Linked DNA regions of Homo sapiens. The protein of the gene in region 1 purifies or fractionates together with the protein of each later gene. This does not show direct contact. Each region holds a gene or a part of one and is shown in the gene's direction. Other genes may lie near its edges.

Region 1 (4,379 bases):
AGAAGAATCACTACGTGGTGGGCGCCGAAAGGAAGCAGCTGGCACACAGCCTCAGCCTCACGGAAACTCAGGTGACTGCGGCCCGGGCGCGAGGAACCCATCTAGGCGTGCGCCCCCTCCCCAAAGCTGGCTCCCAAGCACACCCATGAGCACGGAGCTCTGTGAGGGCCTTCCGCACAGGTCCTGGTAGCTGGTTCCACGCCTGGGCTCGGGATGTATGTCTCAAGGTGCTGGCTTTGTTGGGCTCCAGAAAGGGGCTGTAAGTGCCAATCTGCCCCAGGTTCTGGGGAAACGCGCCGAGTTGTTTCTCTGTCCAGTTGGGCATGTCCTGGCTAAGACATCCCTGCATTTCTGGTGAGACTTTTGATGAGAGTGTGAAGACCCCTGCTGGGGTCCAGGAAGAGGGAGAGCACAGTGGGGTTTCTGGGTGTTTGGAGCTGGAGGCTGGTAAGGACAGGATGTGGGTTAAAGATGAGTTCTGAGCGACTGTGAGCCCACGGCTCACACCGTCGGCTCCAGTGACTTCCCTGAAGGAGATGGGCGATGGGAAGGTAGAGGGCAAGCGTCCTGTGTGTACCCTATATCAGAGAAGTAAAGTTGGGAGGCTGCAGAGAGGGTCTGCCTCAGGGCACAGGCCTTCTGCACAGCAGGGTCCCTGGGCGGGCCTGGCTTGGGTTTATCCCAGGGTGGGGAGGGGGTTTAGGACTACACTAGGCGCTACTGTACACGGAGCCGCAGGGCGGGGTCAAAGTTCCCAGCAAACAGTAACGTTTTTTTGGGCAGACTAAGTTGTAACACTTTTCCTGGGCAGCTCAGAAAGGTCGAGGCTTTTGTTTTAAAACATGTTCCCCACCCCAAAACCGAGGAGGGCCTGGCGGGTTTGTGCGGAGCCCGGCACAAGGCGCGGCCCGGCTGATTTCTCCTGGACAGCCGAGGCGGCGGTGGTCTTTGTCCGCCTCGCTGCCCACGCTGCCTGGAGTCTTTGTGTGCGTGTCAAGCCCCGAGCGCACCGACGCGCGCCTTGGGCCAGCGCCGGGGAGAAATGAACCGTCCTCCCCCTCAATTAGCAAACTCAAAGCAAATTAAATTCAGCCTTGTTCCCGCTCAGCTTTTTTCATGGAGCACTTTGGGCGACTGTGGCTTTCCGGGAGAGCAAGACGGACCGGCCTGCGGCCTCAAAGGAGGGAATGGAATGGATCCCAGGGGTCCAGGGACTGGCACTGGGCTGTGGGGTACTCTTATCCAGATAGAATAGGAGTTGTGGGGGGAGGGTATCAGAGGTGCAGTCACTGCCATCTCCCTTACCTGTACACCACTGCTGTGAAGATTGGACTGTGTTACTGTCTGGTGGCTAAATGAGGACCCACGACTCAGCTTTCCTAGGGGGCCGTGGGATGGCAGCCGACTCCCACCTCATTGCTCCTGAGACCTCTCACAGCCGCTCTGGTGAGGCCGGGCCTCCAGCCCCACCCTGGTGGGAAGTGATGGGACTGGGGTCCGAGGTTGTGTGACCAGCAGCCTGTTCCGGGGCTGTTTAGAAGGAGGGAAGAGGGGGCTTGCTGTCACCTCCCCTTCTCTTAGTTTCTCTTACTTTCCGTGTAACCCACGGTCTTTCAGAAGCTTTCAGTTTTGAACTCATTTTCCTAGCTATAAAGGTACAGCTGGGTTGGTCTGGAGGCCTACACACTCCATGTCCCTCCTGGCCTCCTCCAGCCCCATCCCCTTCCTGCTCACCTGTGAGAGTCCCCCGCACGGAGGATGCAGCTCAGGCAAACCCTGATCGCCTACCCAGGGCCCCCGCCACGAAGAGGAGACGCTATATTTAGGAAACGCCGCCCAGACCAGCAGAAAATAGAAAGCACATTGGGCCCTGAGGGGAGCTGCAGCAGCGGCGGACTGAGGTCTCTCTTGCACTCGCTTGCTGGAGGGAGTTAGGGACATGTCTCTTTTTCTTTTAATCACTTATTATTTTTGTAGGGGCTTCCCATGCTTTGCAAGGCTTTGCTCTCAGCGGGATATAGATGCCCTCTGCAGGGCCAGGAGAGATGGGGCTCAGTGCACTCCGGGCCACAGGGCCCTGGGGAAAGGCTCTTCAGGAAGCCTCAGAAGGGCAGGGAGCTGGGCTTCTGTTCCACCACGCACTAGCGGCCCTGCTCCCTGAGGGCAGGCCTTGGGGAGGCTGGACCTTAGGACTTGCATCTCGGGGGCTGGGTCTTTGCTGAGTCTGGAACTGGAGTCTGGGCTGGGTGAAAGGATCAGGCACTTGATAGAAGGGTGCTCTGAAAGAACTAACGCACCCCATCTGCCTCTCACCCGCAGGTAAAAGTATGGTTTCAGAACCGAAGAACAAAGTTCAAAAGGCAGAAGCTGGAGGAAGAAGGCTCAGATTCGCAACAAAAGAAAAAAGGGACGCACCATATTAACCGGTGGAGAATCGCCACCAAGCAGGCGAGTCCGGAGGAAATAGACGTGACCTCAGATGATTAAAAACATAAACCTAACCCCACAGAAACGGACAACATGGAGCAAAAGAGACAGGGAGAGGTGGAGAAGGAAAAAACCCTACAAAACAAAAACAAACCGCATACACGTTCACCGAGAAAGGGAGAGGGAATCGGAGGGAGCAGCGGAATGCGGCGAAGACTCTGGACAGCGAGGGCACAGGGTCCCAAACCGAGGCCGCGCCAAGATGGCAGAGGATGGAGGCTCCTTCATCAACAAGCGACCCTCGTCTAAAGAGGCAGCTGAGTGAGAGACACAGAGAGAAGGAGAAAGAGGGAGGGAGAGAGAGAAAGAGAGAGAAAGAGAGAGAGAGAGAGAGAGAGAGAAAGCTGAACGTGCACTCTGACAAGGGGAGCTGTCAATCAAACACCAAACCGGGGAGACAAGATGATTGGCAGGTATTCCGTTTATCACAGTCCACTTAAAAAATGATGATGATGATAAAAACCACGACCCAACCAGGCACAGGACTTTTTTGTTTTTTGCACTTCGCTGTGTTTCCCCCCCATCTTTAAAAATAATTAGTAATAAAAAACAAAAATTCCATATCTAGCCCCATCCCACACCTGTTTCAAATCCTTGAAATGCATGTAGCAGTTGTTGGGCGAATGGTGTTTAAAGACCGAAAATGAATTGTAATTTTCTTTTCCTTTTAAAGACAGGTTCTGTGTGCTTTTTATTTTGATTTTTTTTCCCAAGAAATGTGCAGTCTGTAAACACTTTTTGATACCTTCTGATGTCAAAGTGATTGTGCAAGCTAAATGAAGTAGGCTCAGCGATAGTGGTCCTCTTACAGAGAAACGGGGAGCAGGACGACGGGGGGGCTGGGGGTGGCGGGGGAGGGTGCCCACAAAAAGAATCAGGACTTGTACTGGGAAAAAAACCCCTAAATTAATTATATTTCTTGGACATTCCCTTTCCTAACATCCTGAGGCTTAAAACCCTGATGCAAACTTCTCCTTTCAGTGGTTGGAGAAATTGGCCGAGTTCAACCATTCACTGCAATGCCTATTCCAAACTTTAAATCTATCTATTGCAAAACCTGAAGGACTGTAGTTAGCGGGGATGATGTTAAGTGTGGCCAAGCGCACGGCGGCAAGTTTTCAAGCACTGAGTTTCTATTCCAAGATCATAGACTTACTAAAGAGAGTGACAAATGCTTCCTTAATGTCTTCTATACCAGAATGTAAATATTTTTGTGTTTTGTGTTAATTTGTTAGAATTCTAACACACTATATACTTCCAAGAAGTATGTCAATGTCAATATTTTGTCAATAAAGATTTATCAATATGCCCTCAGAGTAGTCGTCTTGGGAAATTGAAGTGGATCTTTAAAAATGTATCTCAGTAATTTGAGTGTGGTCCTTCCCCAACTAGGCTCAAGAAACCCAGGCTCCTCACCCACAAAAGGGCCAGATTGATGGATTCTCAGGCATTTTAAAGAAAGATGAGGGTGGAGAAGGGAGAAGATTAGGAAAACTTAAGTCCTTCAGAAAAGAGATGGGAGAAAAGTTTTTCAACCAGACTTTGCCCATTGTATGCCCTCCTGAGGGAGTTTAGTTTGAACTTCAGGTTAAAATGCTTACTTCTCTTAACCTCTGGTTATTAAAAAAAAACTGGACATATAGTTACACATTGAGGACTACTCTCCCAAAATATTGGGGAAAACATGTAGCAGAATCTTGCAACTTCTAAACTTTCTGACTTCAAACCCCAAAGTACAAGTCTTACTTTTCCTTCCTTTCTTTCCTCCTCTCCCTGGCCCCAATCTGCTGAAGGTGATGGGCCAAGCCCAAGGGCCTCAGCAGCCTTATAAGGCAAGTGTTCTGAAAAACCTTCAACTCTTAATTTTAACATTAAAGAAAAAGTTGTAATCA
Region 2 (4,614 bases), on another chromosome or scaffold:
AGACTAACAGATTAAAGATGTTAACCATCCTCAAATTGATCTGCAGACTTAAGGCAGTTCCAATCACAGTCCCAAAAGGACAATTTTGTAGATAAAGACAGACTGATCCTAAAATTTATATGGAAATACAAAAACACTAAAGTAGCCAAAACAATTTGAAAAAGAAGAAAGCTCAGTGAATCACACTACCTAATCTTAAGACTTACTCTAAACTACAGTAATCAGTGAGCAAAAGGCATGTAGATCTTTGGAGCAGAAGAGAGAGTCCAGGAATAGATTCATAGAAATATAGGCCAATTAATTTTTTACATAGGTGCAAAGGCAGTTCAATGGAAAAGGTTACATCTTTACAGTAAATGGTGTTGCAGCAATTGGACATAGATAGGCAAAAGAGGGACCCTTGATCTAAACCACACACCTCACACAAAATTTTAACTCTAAATGGATCATAGATCTAAATGTAAAAGGTAAAGCTGTAAACTTTTAGAAGAAAACATAGTGGAAAAATCATTTTCTGGGATTAGGTAAAATGTTCCTAAACATGCACCAAAAGCAAGGCTCATAAAAGAAAGAATTGACAGATTTCTCATGTGGCAAATGACTAGCGTCCTGAATATATGAAGGACTCTCTAAATCAAATAGTAAGAAAACAACCCAATTAAAAAATGGACAAAAGACTTTAACAGACATATCACCAAAGAGGTATAGAGATGGCAAATCAGTACATTGAAGGGGATCAACAGCAGTAGCCATTACAGAAATGCAAATTAAAACCATGATATCTCTGCACACTTAAAATGACTAAAATAAAATATGATACTAAGTGCTGATGGTTTGAGGAGCAACTGGAACTCTCATACACTGCTAGTAGGAATGCAAAATGTACAACCACTCTAGAAAACTGTCAGCTTCTTAATAAACATTTACCACTGACCCAACAATTCTACTCCTGCTATCTGCTTTAAAAAATGAAAACATGTCCACACAAAAACCCGTATACAAATACACAGAAACTCTATGAATAATCTCGCGATGGCTCACGCCTGTAATCCCAGCACTTTGGGAGGCCGAGGCAGGCAGATCACAAGGTCAGGAGTTCAAGACCAGCCTGGCCAATATGGTGAAACCCTGTCTCTACTAAAAAATACAAAAATTAGCCAGGCATGGTGATGGGCGCCTGTAGTCCCAGCTACTCAGAGGCTGAGGCAGGAGAATCGCTTGAACCCAGAAGGTGGAGGTTGCAGTGATCTGAGATGGCGCCACTGCACTCCAGCCTGGGCGACAGAGCCAGTCTGTCTCAAAAAATAAATAAATAAAATTTAAAAACTGGCAACAACCGAAATGTCCTTCAACAGGCAAATGGATAAACCAACTGATACATACTTACAATGGAATACTACTCAGCAATAAAAAGGAATGAACAGTCAATACACAGAACAATTTGGATGAAACTCAAAGGCATTAAACTGAATGAAAGAAGTTGGTCTCAAAACAATACATGCTATATGATTCTATTTACATGACATTCTGGAAAAGGCAAAACTATAGTGATGGAGAACCTATCAATGGTTGCCAGAAGTTAGGAGTGAGAGGAGCCTGTGACTAAAAAGGGGCAGCACCAGGGAGTTCTGTGGGAGATGGAACTGTTCTGTGTTCTTGACTGTGGTTATTCCAATCTATACATGTATTATAATTCAACTGTCTACTAAAGAAAAGGTCATTTTTAATGAATAAATAACAATAACAACACAGCAAATTGCTGCTGAACTGTCCCCACACTGAAATTGTGCTGAGAATTTTCTAGTTTACCTGTAAGCAGCTTCACTACCATACATTTAGCCAAGTTTCCATGACAGCAGGCAATTAGCATTCAGGAGGGCCTTTGAGTGGTTTGGCGGTAAGGCAGTTGCTCAGTTCAGCCATCTTTACCTTAGACATTAAGATATCCAAAATAAATGATTTTTCTGGGAAAATAAAATTTCTTTCTAAAATATTTCAATTTTAACTGTAAGCATTCCACAAGTATGTGGTTAGGCTGGTGTATATCAAATGAATTAACTCTTCCATTTAAAAATACATAGAGTAAAGCTTGTGAACAATCTCTGGCTTAGAGAGTGTTTTCACCAAACTATAAGACTGTGTTACACGTGGACATCAGATACCAGCTTAGCTCCTCCTTCTTTTGCTGCCTTTTCCTCCCCTATAGGAGGTTGTGGCTCACTGGATTGCTGAAAGCCGCATTGCCATTGAGAAGATCCGCTTGTTGACTCTGAAAGCTGCTCACAGCATGGACACTCTGGGCAGTGCTGGCGCTAAGAAAGAGGTGAGGCTACCTTCTCCCCTCAGACCACCAACTGCTGAGCCTTCTCCAGTTCTCTCACCTGTTGGACATTTCAGTTTTCATGGCATCTTGATGGCACTCAGAATATTGGAAGCCCCCATGTGATTTTGGGTTATAAATTATAAATGCCTGTCACTTGCTAGTCTCCTAGCAAGTGCTTTAGGGAATGATTTTCAGGAGGGAGAATATCTTCAGCATTCTTAAGATACAGCAACAAGGAATGGGGGAAATCATAGGCTTTACACAGCCCTGGAACTGCACCCACTCTGCCACTTTCTTCTAGCCTTGTGATCACGGGCAAAGTACTTAACTTTTCTGCCTAAGGCCTAGGGTTGTTGTGAAGAGTAACCAAGATGATGTACATAGAATGTGCAGAAGCCACGTACAGTGGCTCTCGCCTGTAATCCAAGCTACTTGGGAAGTGGAGGTGGGAGAATTGTTTGAGGCCAGGGATTCGAGACCAGCCTGGGCAACATAGTGAGACCCTGTCTCTTAAAAAAAAAATTAGCCGACATGGTAACTTGTACCTGTAGTCCCAGGGAGGCTGAGGCAGGGGGATTGCTTGAGCCCAGGATTCTGAGGCAGCAGTAGTGAGCTATGATCACACCTGGGAATAGCCACTCCACTCTATTCTGGGTGACAGAGTGAGAGCCTGTCTCAAATAACAAAACAAAAAATGCACAGCATGATACTGCTACATAGTAAATGTTTCATGAAAGAGACCTCTCATCCTTTGCTTTCTTATGTTTCTGGATTATATGAAATAAAGACATAATCATTTAATTCTAAAAGCCCATAAAACTGCTAAAAGAAACCTGATTAATAGCGCAAAGACCCTTGGACTATTTTTATGATCCCTAAGGTGATGAGTGTGATTTATCAGCTGCCTGAAATCCTTTTGGAAACAAGACAAGTTAGAAATAAATGGATAAAATGTGATTTGGAAGAGGTGTCTCTTTCCAGAGGGTCTGTATTGACTGAAATATGGCATTGCAGCAGGATCTCTTTGTTGGCTTTTGTTAAAGATCCTGTTTTAGTGGTGACTTGGATGTGGGAAAGTTTCCTTGTTTCATTTCCCAGTTTTGCCACATTGTGTATAGTCTAAGAAAGAAGCATTCTTTTCATATTTTGCTTATATAGATTGCAATGATCAAAGTGGCTGCCCCACGGGCTGTCAGCAAAATCGTTGACTGGGCCATCCAGGTGTGCGGAGGTGCTGGTGTTTCCCAGGATTACCCTCTGGCTAACATGTGAGTAGATGTCATTTAAGAATCATCTACGTTTGATAGGCGTGGAGGTAAAAAATCTACAGATGCCTTGACATTAATTGCTTATGTTTATTTTCAGTGTAATTGAAGGCTAAATGAAGTGATATACATTAATATAGAGCTCAACACCAAGAAATAGTTGCTCTTATTATTACAATAATCATTTCATTCCATTATGTTAATTTTTACACTGAGGGGTCCCACTGAGGATTCCTGGGCTGTAGATACAGCATGGGGTTTCGCTGAATTTGTAGCAGGACATGTCAGTGACTATCTAATATATAGATCCTGATGACTGGGAGGCAGAAAGGAACATTCTCCATTCCCCATCTGTCCATCTCCACACATAATTACAGTGTCACCTTCTCTATCACAATGGAGATAGAGTCTCATCCTTCATCAATTTTAAACCTTAAGAAAGAACTAAATATATAGTATCATACCAGTCACTGCCTGTTCTAAGTTCTAGCAACATGTAGTAAACTGTAGCAAACCAAGAATGAGATGAACTCCACTGTACTTTGGCATTTAACTTTCCCAAGTTGGAAACTTTAAGATGGCATTGCAGAAGCCCTTTAGCTTATTTTCCTGGTACCCTTTTTCTTACCCTGACCTTGGTGGAATTTAAGAATTAATATAGTCTTGGTTGACAATCAGAGTGACTGATGTCAAAGTATCATGTTCCTCTTCCATAACTCCCTGTGTTCCCTGATTCTTTTGCTTTTTCAGGTATGCTATAACCCGAGTTTTGCGTTTAGCAGATGGACCTGACGAAGTTCATCTTTCAGCAATCGCAACAATGGAGCTGCGGGACCAAGCCAAAAGACTGACAGCCAAGATATAAGGAGGGTGGCACTGCCACATCCCACTGGCAGAAACTCTCCTTTATACAAACTTCATTGGCTCCAACATTTGAATCTCATATTTTTGTAGCAGTTTGAGCACAGGGTTAATTATTCATTTGTGGTAAAGATTATAGCATCTATTTTGATCAGTGGGTTTTAT
Region 3 (4,448 bases), on another chromosome or scaffold:
GCACCTAGCACAGTCTTCTGCTTAACATAGGGGCTCAGTAAATATCTGTGGAATTGAATTGTTACAAAAATAGAGCCACAGCCACAGTTGCAGAACTCTTGGCAGGAATACTATCCCAGGGACAGAACCCAAGATGATCCATTTTCTTCTAGCAGTGGTGGTATGTCGGTTGGTATACCCCAGCAGCCAGGAGTGAGGCTGCTCTTTGAAGAAGCCATAAAGGGAGAGGCCCGAGCAGAACTCCAGGCTGTGCCTGGAAGAGTCCCAGGTTTTGCTTGGGAATGGTCCCAGGACTCATGGCAGCAGAGCGAGAGTAACCTCCCAAAAAAGGTTATAAGTTGCAGGACCCCACTATATTGACGTTTAGGACCCAGATAAGAAGATTTCCTTTTTTTTAGTTTTTTTTCTTTCTTTCTTTCTTTTTTTTTTTTTAATGGAATCTTGCTCTGTCACCCAGGCTGGAGTGCAGTGGCATGATCTTGGCTCACTGTAACCTCAGCCTCCGGAGTTCAAGGGATTCTCCTGCCTCAGCCTCCCAAATAGCTGGGATTACAGGCACCCGCCACCAAACCCAGCTGATTTTTGTATTTTTAGTAGAGATGGGGTTTCACCATGTTGGCCAGGCTAGTCTCGAACTCCTGAACTCAAGTGATCTGCCCGCCTGGGCCTCCCAAAGTGCTGGGATTACAGGTGTAAGCCACCACGCCCGGCCAGATAAGAGGATTTTCTAGAGTCCCCTGTCTTACCTCCCAAGTTTTCTCCTTAACAAAATTAGAAAAAAGAGATACAAACTAGCACCCGAAGTAGCTTAAAATCCTGAATAAATGTACATTTAATTGCTCTTGCCAATTGCTTTTGATGATTTATATCAGCATGATGTCCCATTAATAAACCACAGTAACAATGTAACATAGCTAACATGTTATAGTGCATCTTGTGTCAAGCTCCCTGATAACTGCATTCCATGTATCATCTCATTTAAGGTGACAGCAGTTGGTTGTGAGGTGTGGATACTGTTACTCTCCTCACACTGCAGAGTCTTAAGAGACTGAGTTTTAGAAATGTGAAATAATTTGCCTAAGGTGACAAAGCCAGTGAGTGGCTGCTGCAGGACCGGAAGCCATGGTTTTCCCTCCTCCTGTATGGTAATGGTAATAATTATCACAGCTGCCTCTCCCCTTTTAGGCTAGGCCTCATACACTTGTCTTAATCACATTTCCCCATTTGTTTGTGGGATTTTTGTGCGCTTCACTCCTACTCTTACCCCATCCACTTCCTTTTTCAGTTTACCATGGGATCCTTTGTAGAAGGCCAACTGACTGACCATATCTGCCCACTCTCCACCCTAGGGAGGGCCTGACCATAACTACACCAAGGAGAAGATCAAGATCGTAGAGGGAATCTGCCTCCTGTCTGGGGATGATGCTGAGTGGGATGACCTCAAGCAACTGCGAAGCTCACGGGGGGGCCTCCTCCGGGATCATGTATGCATGAAGACAGACACGGTGTCCATCCAGGCCAGCTCTGGCTCCCTGGATGACACAGAGACGGAGCAGCTGTTACAGGAAGAGCAGTCTGAGTGTAGCAGCGTCCATACTGCAGCCACTCCAGAAAGACGAGGCTCTCTGCCAGACACGGGCTGGAAACATGAACGCAAGCTCTCCTCAGAGAGCCAGGTCTAAATGCCCACATTCTCTTCCCTGCCTGCCTGTTCCTTCTCCTTTATGGACGTCTAGTCCTTGTGCTCGCTTACACCGCAGGCCCCGCTTCTGTGTGCTTGTCCTCCTCCTCCTCCCACCCCATAACTGTTCCTAAGCCTTCACCGGAGCTGTTTACCACGTGAGTCCATAACTACCTGTGCACAAGAAATGATGGCACATCACGAGAATTTAGACCTGGATTTTACCATGAACCTCACATCTTGTACTCCATCCTGGGCCCCCTGAAACTGCTTATTCGTGATTCCTCACCAGCGTAGAGCTCCACCTCCCCTTTCCCCAGTACCCTCAGTGCCTGCTTCTCAGTGCTGATGCAGCTGATGACCCAGGACTGCGCTCTGCCCCATCACAGCCAGCATGACTGCTTCTCTGAGAGAACTTGCCCATCAGGGGCTGGGACATGGGGGTGTGGGTAAAGACAGGGATGAAGGATAGAGGCTGAGAGAAGAAGGAAGAATCAGCCCAGCAGGTATGGGCATCTGGGAAACCTCCAGCCTCAAGTGTGTTAGTAACATGAAAAAGCTTTGGGGGGTAGTTGGATCTGGGTGTCTGGTCCATTGCTGGCAGTGGACATTATTCTTGCCCTAAGAGACACTGCCTTTTCAGCAGCAGATACTGGTGAGATGGGGGTGGCTCAGGCTGTTCTTCCTCCTCCTAGAATGTCTGGAGCTGTTTCTACATTCAGATAACTGGGTCCCCTATCACAAGGCTACTGGCTAATAGGAATTCCCTCCTGGTGCCACCACTGGCCAGTACCTTTCCTAAGTCTTTGCTCAAATTAACCAGGTTGTGAGCCAGTGGCTTGAGTGAATGTTAGGCCTTGGGGGCTGAGTCTCTGAAAAGTCTAAGAAGCTCTGCCTAGACCAAATATGGTATACCTCCTGACCCCTCTCTCCCTCATGTCCTGGGATTCTGGGGAAGAGACCTAGAAACAAGCTTTCAAAGAAAAACCAGAAGTTGTCATAAATGGTCAGAAAGAACGATCAGGTTGGAGACTTGGGAAACCCAGGGCCTAAAGAGAAGTATCCATGAGGGTCAAACTTCCTGTTGAACTTCCTATGTTCTTTCTCAAGTGCTCAGGGATCTAAGTTAGTGGACAGCAAGCCTGTGGCTACGGGGTGGTGATGTTCCTCTTCCAGCTGTCCCCTCAGCTAAGGGGCTTAGTTTCCATGTGGGATGCCATCACTTGGTTCATGCTCATTCACACAAAGGGCACGTGTCTCAGCCTGGTATCAGGGAAATTGAGACTTATTTTTGCCCTAAAACGTCTCCCTAGCTGTTCTTCGTGGGGTTTTTTTGTTTGTTTTTTTGCCTAATTTGCTTTTTCTGACCAAGCCTTGTGGCACCAGCAATCTCCAAAGTCCTGTGGTGGGAGGGCTGAATAAATAAAAATACAAAGAGGTGGGTAAGGAGTAGGAAGGTAGAGAGCACCACTGATGAGGCCCTCCTAGCCCATGGCAGACCCAGACCTCTTCTCCCCCAGGAATTAGAAGTGGCAGGAGAGAACAACAGGGGCTGGGAATGGAGGGGAGAATTTCTAGGGGAAGTTTCCTGAGTTGAAACTTCTCCTGTGGTTACTGGTATTGAGAAATCAGCTACCAAAGTGAAAAAGGACAAGATCAATTCTTTTCTAGTCAGTTCTAAGACTGCTAGAGAGAGATACCAGGCCCTTAGCCTTGCTCTCAGTAGCGTCAGCCCCAGTTCTGAGCCTCCCCACATTACACTTAACAAGCAGTAAAGGAGTGAGCACTTTGGGTCCTTAGACTCACGTCTGGGGAGGAAGAGCAAGTAGAAAAGTGGCATTTTCTTGATTGGAAAGGGGGAAGGATCTTATTGCACTTGGGCTGTTCAGAATGTAGAAAGGACATATTTGAGGAAGTATCTATTTGAGCACTGATTTACTCTGTAAAAAGCAAAATCTCTCTGTCCTAAACTAATGGAAGCGATTCTCCCATGCTCATGTGTAATGGTTTTAACGTTACTCACTGGAGAGATTGGACTTTCTGGAGTTATTTAACCACTATGTTCAGTATTTTAGGACTTTATGATAATTTAATATAAATTTAGCTTTTCTTAATCACCTTGCCTGGCTTGGAGTCATGACTAATCCTGCACCTGCTCTGTCTGGCAGACCCATGCTGTGGAAAACCTGCTTACAGACATCACTTTTAAGTCCTTTGTGGATGTGGGCACAGTGAAGAGCAATAAAGAGTGTGAGGTTCCTGCTGGAGTTTTCAGCTCATCTGGAGAAGACAGGTCGAGGCCAGAGTTCCTTGACTGATGAAACCTTTATTTCCTCTGGAAGAGGAATGGTAGATGGGTTTCCTCTTGAGTGCTGACTCTGACTGGTTGGTAGTGGCTGCCTGAGGGCCTATTCGCACCCAATGGGAAGAATGTCATATGGCTAGTGACATCTCTTCTGTGCACTGGAAGGAAATGTCATGGCATGTATACCATGTATCTTCTATTTCTGTTCTAGGTCTTTGTTACAGAACTTTACTTTGCCTTGCAGTGATGGTCACTGGCAAGACTATCTCATGTAGTAAGAAAAGTACTGGAGCTGGGGACATGGAGGGCTAATTCCAGTCCCAGATCTGCCACTAGCTCTGTTTGATCTTAGTCAACTTTCATAGTTAGTCTGAGAGTGGATCAAATTATCACTAGGATTTCATTTATTTTTAAAAGCTGTCTTTTCATAGCTCATCCACTACTTCTCAAGGCTAGAACAAG
Region 4 (3,908 bases), on another chromosome or scaffold:
GTTTAACAATTGATAGGGGTCAGCTCTGGCACACCAATGCACAGGATGTTGAGGGTGGGCTGCTTGATTTTCCTGGCTTCCCTTTGGAATCAGAAAGCTACTGCCCTAAGTCAGGGATGACATCTGTTGTGGCCACTTATGAGAAAATTAGGAGAGTCTAGAAATAGAGTCAAAATCAAAACAATGCTCGTTGGAGAGGAGTACCCACCTGGGCTCCAGTTGTTAAAGGGAAGGGGAGATGCTAGTGGAAGGCCTTTCTCCCTTTTTTCTTTCTACCTTATTGATAAATAGAAAGAGTGATGGATCTTGAAGAATTTGAAGCTAACTCCAGGACAGGCAGAGGACAAACAAGGATGCTGATGAAGTCTTCTTGCATTCCCCATTTCTCGTCTCATGCTCCCTTCTCATGCCTCCCTTCATCTTCAGATGAAACACAATTCCCTCTCTTTTACTCTGAGTTGCCCTCTGATTTAACCCTGAATAGTCCCCTCATTAGACTCAGAAGCAGAGTTCTGAGCCATGCTCTTTGTCTTTTGTCAAACAATCTCTCCCACTCACAGTAGTATGTATTGCATGAAGATTAATGTAATGAATTGGTTAGAATTTTCTAAACTGTTAAAAAATGTTTTTAACATTTGAAAGGAGTTAGGTACAAATTGTTTTTATTAAAAATTTCTGCCTGTCTCAGGTGTTTACTAGCTCTTTTACACTTGTCTCCATAAAACTGTGAAAAGATGAAAATTTGGGAGAAAATCTTGGTGTGTTTATAAAAGAAAATATCTGTAGATTTTCTTGGACCAGAACTCACCATCTAATTGCATGTCATTGGGGGAGGGGTAATAAATGGGTGTGTGGGTATCAGGCTATTGTCATCTAAATTTTAAGGTTTGAGTCTTTCTTATCCTAGGTGGAAAAAGCACTTACATATGAGAAATTCAAAGCCTGGACAAATTCAGAAAAGTTGACAAAAAGTAAGGTTCAAGTTTTCCTTCCCAGATTAAAGCTGGAGGAGAGTTATGACTTGGAGCCTTTCCTTCGAAGATTAGGAATGATCGATGCTTTTGACGAAGCCAAGGCAGACTTTTCTGGAATGTCAACTGAGAAGAATGTGCCTCTGTCCAAGGTTGCCCACAAGTGCTTCGTGGAGGTCAATGAGGAAGGCACAGAGGCTGCCGCAGCCACTGCTGTGGTCAGGAATTCCCGGTGCAGCAGAATGGAGCCAAGATTCTGTGCAGACCACCCTTTTCTTTTCTTCATCAGGCACCACAAAACCAACTGCATCTTGTTCTGTGGCAGGTTCTCTTCTCCGTAAAGAGGAGCAATTGCTGTACATACCCTCCTTTCCTTCTACCTATCTTGCCTTAATTAACATTCCCTGTGACCTAGTTGGTGCAGTGGCTTGAATGCCAAAATAAAGCGTGTGCACTGGATAGTGTGTGAAAGTCTTTGCTGAAAGTTCCAGAGCCATTGAGAATAACTGAGGCCGCAGATGCATGAAATTTGGGCCTGGGAAGGCTATGCTGGTTTTGGAGTGTTTGGGGTGCCTGCCATTGCCTCTGCCTTCACCTAAGTCTGTGCCCATTGTTTCAGGGGATCTTATGGAGCATCTCAGGGCTTCAGGAGCCAGCCCTCTTCCATCCGCCCGGCTCTGCCCACCACCACTGCCAGGCTGAACAGGGGACTAGTGCCCAGGTGACACTGCACACAAAGCCAAGGGCAAACCCTATAGAGTAAAGCTGCAGCCACCCTGTGTCTCATGTGCAGCTGAAATAGTGATCTGCTTCTGTCACTGTCACATAGACAGCCCTGCATGCCCCCTGTCTCACACAGTTTGTAATGAAGACAGCTCCTTCTCATCTTTCCATAAGCCTGAGATACAAGTTCAGGGACTCAGCAATGCACTTTAGGACTGAGCTAGGAGGCAAATATCTGAAGCTTGCTATGCTGTTCTTTCCATTCCTTTTCCCTCTGAAACACACAAAATACCAAAGGAACTTACGCAACACACCACTGAGTCCTCTAACTAATCATATGTGCTCAGACACAGCTCAAGCACACCCCTTAGTTAAGAAAGAACCTCCATATACATTAATTTTTTTCTGCCTAAAAATAAAATTGCGTTGTGGCAGCAATTTGGAAACTACAGCAAAGTCTCCAAAAAAATTGAAGTCACCCACAATTCCAACACACAGCAATCACTGCTGTTAATAGTGATATACATCCTTCCCTATTATGTGTATGCAAATAGAAATTTATAAGCATTTTACTACAAGTTAATCATATCCTTCAGTAGCTTATTTCTTCCCTTATGAAAAACCTCCCTTAAGATCTTTCCAGGTCATCAATTTGATGTGCATAGTATTCCACTGTGTGGCTGGATTTCTATAATTGAATCTAATTTTAGACAGTTTGAGTAATTAAAATTATTTCTATTAACAAATAATAGATTGCTAATAATATATATTATGCTGTTTTGGATATACTAAATATTTGCTCACATCCTTAATATATTTTTTAAAATTCCTAACAATAGTACTGTTGAGATAAAAGTTGAGCACATTTTGAGACTTCTTCCAAATTGGTCCCTAGAAAGTTACACTGGTTTGTACTCTCACTTATGTCACTGTTTATACCACCACTGACTGCTGCCTGCTTTATTATTTCTTTAATGAGTTGGACTGAACAGTGGTTAATCCTGACTCTGTTTTTGACTGACAGTTAACAGTTACATGAACCATTCATATTACAGCTCTTACTTAAATTTGACCAAGCCAGGATATATCTGTTAGGCCACATTCATTTAGGGATCATGTTTTCCAAAGCAGGTTTGGGCAAAATTAATCCACAGGACTGAAAGGTATACATCTGTGAGTTTTGTTCTCACTTCCACCTCTAATTTGAAGAACACTTTAATTGACACAGAATACATTTCACATATTTAACCTCTACAATAAGTTCTGACACATTTTCCATGAAACAAACCATCGCTATATTCAAGATAATGAACCTATCTATCATACTCCCAAATTCCTTCTTGCATCTTTGTAATTTCTCACTCTTCCTTCTCCCTCTCCCCGTCCCATCCCAACCACTGATCTGCTCAGGCAACTACCAATCTTCTTTCTGTCACTATAGATTAATTTGCATTTTTAAAGAAATTTACATACATGGAACCATACATCATCTATGCTTTGTAGTATGACTCCTGTCACTCAGTACAATTATTTTGAGATTCATTTATGTTATTGTATGTATCAATAGTTCATCCCTTTTATTGGTAAGTAACATTTTTTTGTATAGGTATACCATGATTTGTTGATGAACAAATTTACCTGTTGATGAACATTTACGTTGTTACCAAGATTTTTGCTATTGAAAATAAAGTTTTTATGAATATTTATATATATACATCTTTGTATGGACATATGTCTTCATTTCTTTTGTATATAGATACATAGAAGTAGAATGGCTGGGTCATATGGAAGGTGTAAGTTTAACTTTTTAAGGATCTGCCAAATTGCCTTTGAAAGTGGTTGTATCATTTAACATTCCCAGTAAAGCCTAGGAGAGTTCTGGTTTTTCTCTCTTCTCACCAATACTTGGTACTACCAGTGTTGTTACTTTCAGCGTGTACCGGCTTTTGGTTGCATTTCCCTAATGCCTAATTATGTTCAGCATTTAAAAAAATGTGCTTAGGCCGGGCGCGGTGGCTCACGCCTGTAATCCCAGCACTTTGGGAGGCCGAGGCGGGCGGATCACGAGGTAAGGAGATCGAGACCATCCCGGCTAAAACGGTGAAACCCCGTCTCTACTAAAAATACAAAAAATTAGCTGGGCGTAGTGGTGGGCGCCTGTAGTCCCAGCTACTCGGGAGGCTGAGGCAGGAGAATGGCGTGAACCCGGGAGGC

What was found.
Region 2: the proteins of EMX2 (region 1) and ACAD11 purify together in Homo sapiens (affinity purification with mass spectrometry; one large-scale study listed by BioGRID and IntAct). This does not show direct contact.
Region 3: the proteins of EMX2 (region 1) and LRP4 purify together in Homo sapiens (affinity purification with mass spectrometry; one large-scale study listed by BioGRID and IntAct). This does not show direct contact.
Region 4: the proteins of EMX2 (region 1) and SERPINB8 purify together in Homo sapiens (affinity purification with mass spectrometry; one large-scale study listed by BioGRID and IntAct). This does not show direct contact.

What each region holds. Positions count from the first base shown.
Region 1 is NC_000010.11:117,545,746-117,550,124, forward strand, and holds the end of EMX2 (homeobox protein EMX2), read left to right. Parts: coding exon 1-71; intron 72-2,319; coding exon 2,320-2,487; 3' UTR 2,488-3,801; downstream 3,802-4,379. UniProt on the Homo sapiens protein: Transcription factor, which in cooperation with EMX1, acts to generate the boundary between the roof and archipallium in the developing brain. May function in combination with OTX1/2 to specify cell fates in the developing central nervous system.
Region 2 is NC_000003.12:132,558,810-132,563,423, reverse strand, and holds part of ACAD11 (acyl-CoA dehydrogenase family member 11), read left to right. Parts: intron 1-2,206; coding exon 2,207-2,323; intron 2,324-3,481; coding exon 3,482-3,591; intron 3,592-4,338; coding exon 4,339-4,453; 3' UTR 4,454-4,614. UniProt on the Homo sapiens protein: Acyl-CoA dehydrogenase, that exhibits maximal activity towards saturated C22-CoA.
Region 3 is NC_000011.10:46,856,217-46,860,664, reverse strand, and holds the end of LRP4 (low-density lipoprotein receptor-related protein 4 precursor), read left to right. Parts: intron 1-1,349; coding exon 1,350-1,682; 3' UTR 1,683-3,948; downstream 3,949-4,448. UniProt on the Homo sapiens protein: Mediates SOST-dependent inhibition of bone formation. Functions as a specific facilitator of SOST-mediated inhibition of Wnt signaling.
Region 4 is NC_000018.10:63,985,967-63,989,874, forward strand, and holds the end of SERPINB8 (serpin B8), read left to right. Parts: intron 1-291; coding exon of another isoform or gene 292-300; exon of another isoform or gene 301-684; intron 685-907; coding exon 908-1,312; 3' UTR 1,313-3,408; downstream 3,409-3,908. UniProt on the Homo sapiens protein: Has an important role in epithelial desmosome-mediated cell-cell adhesion.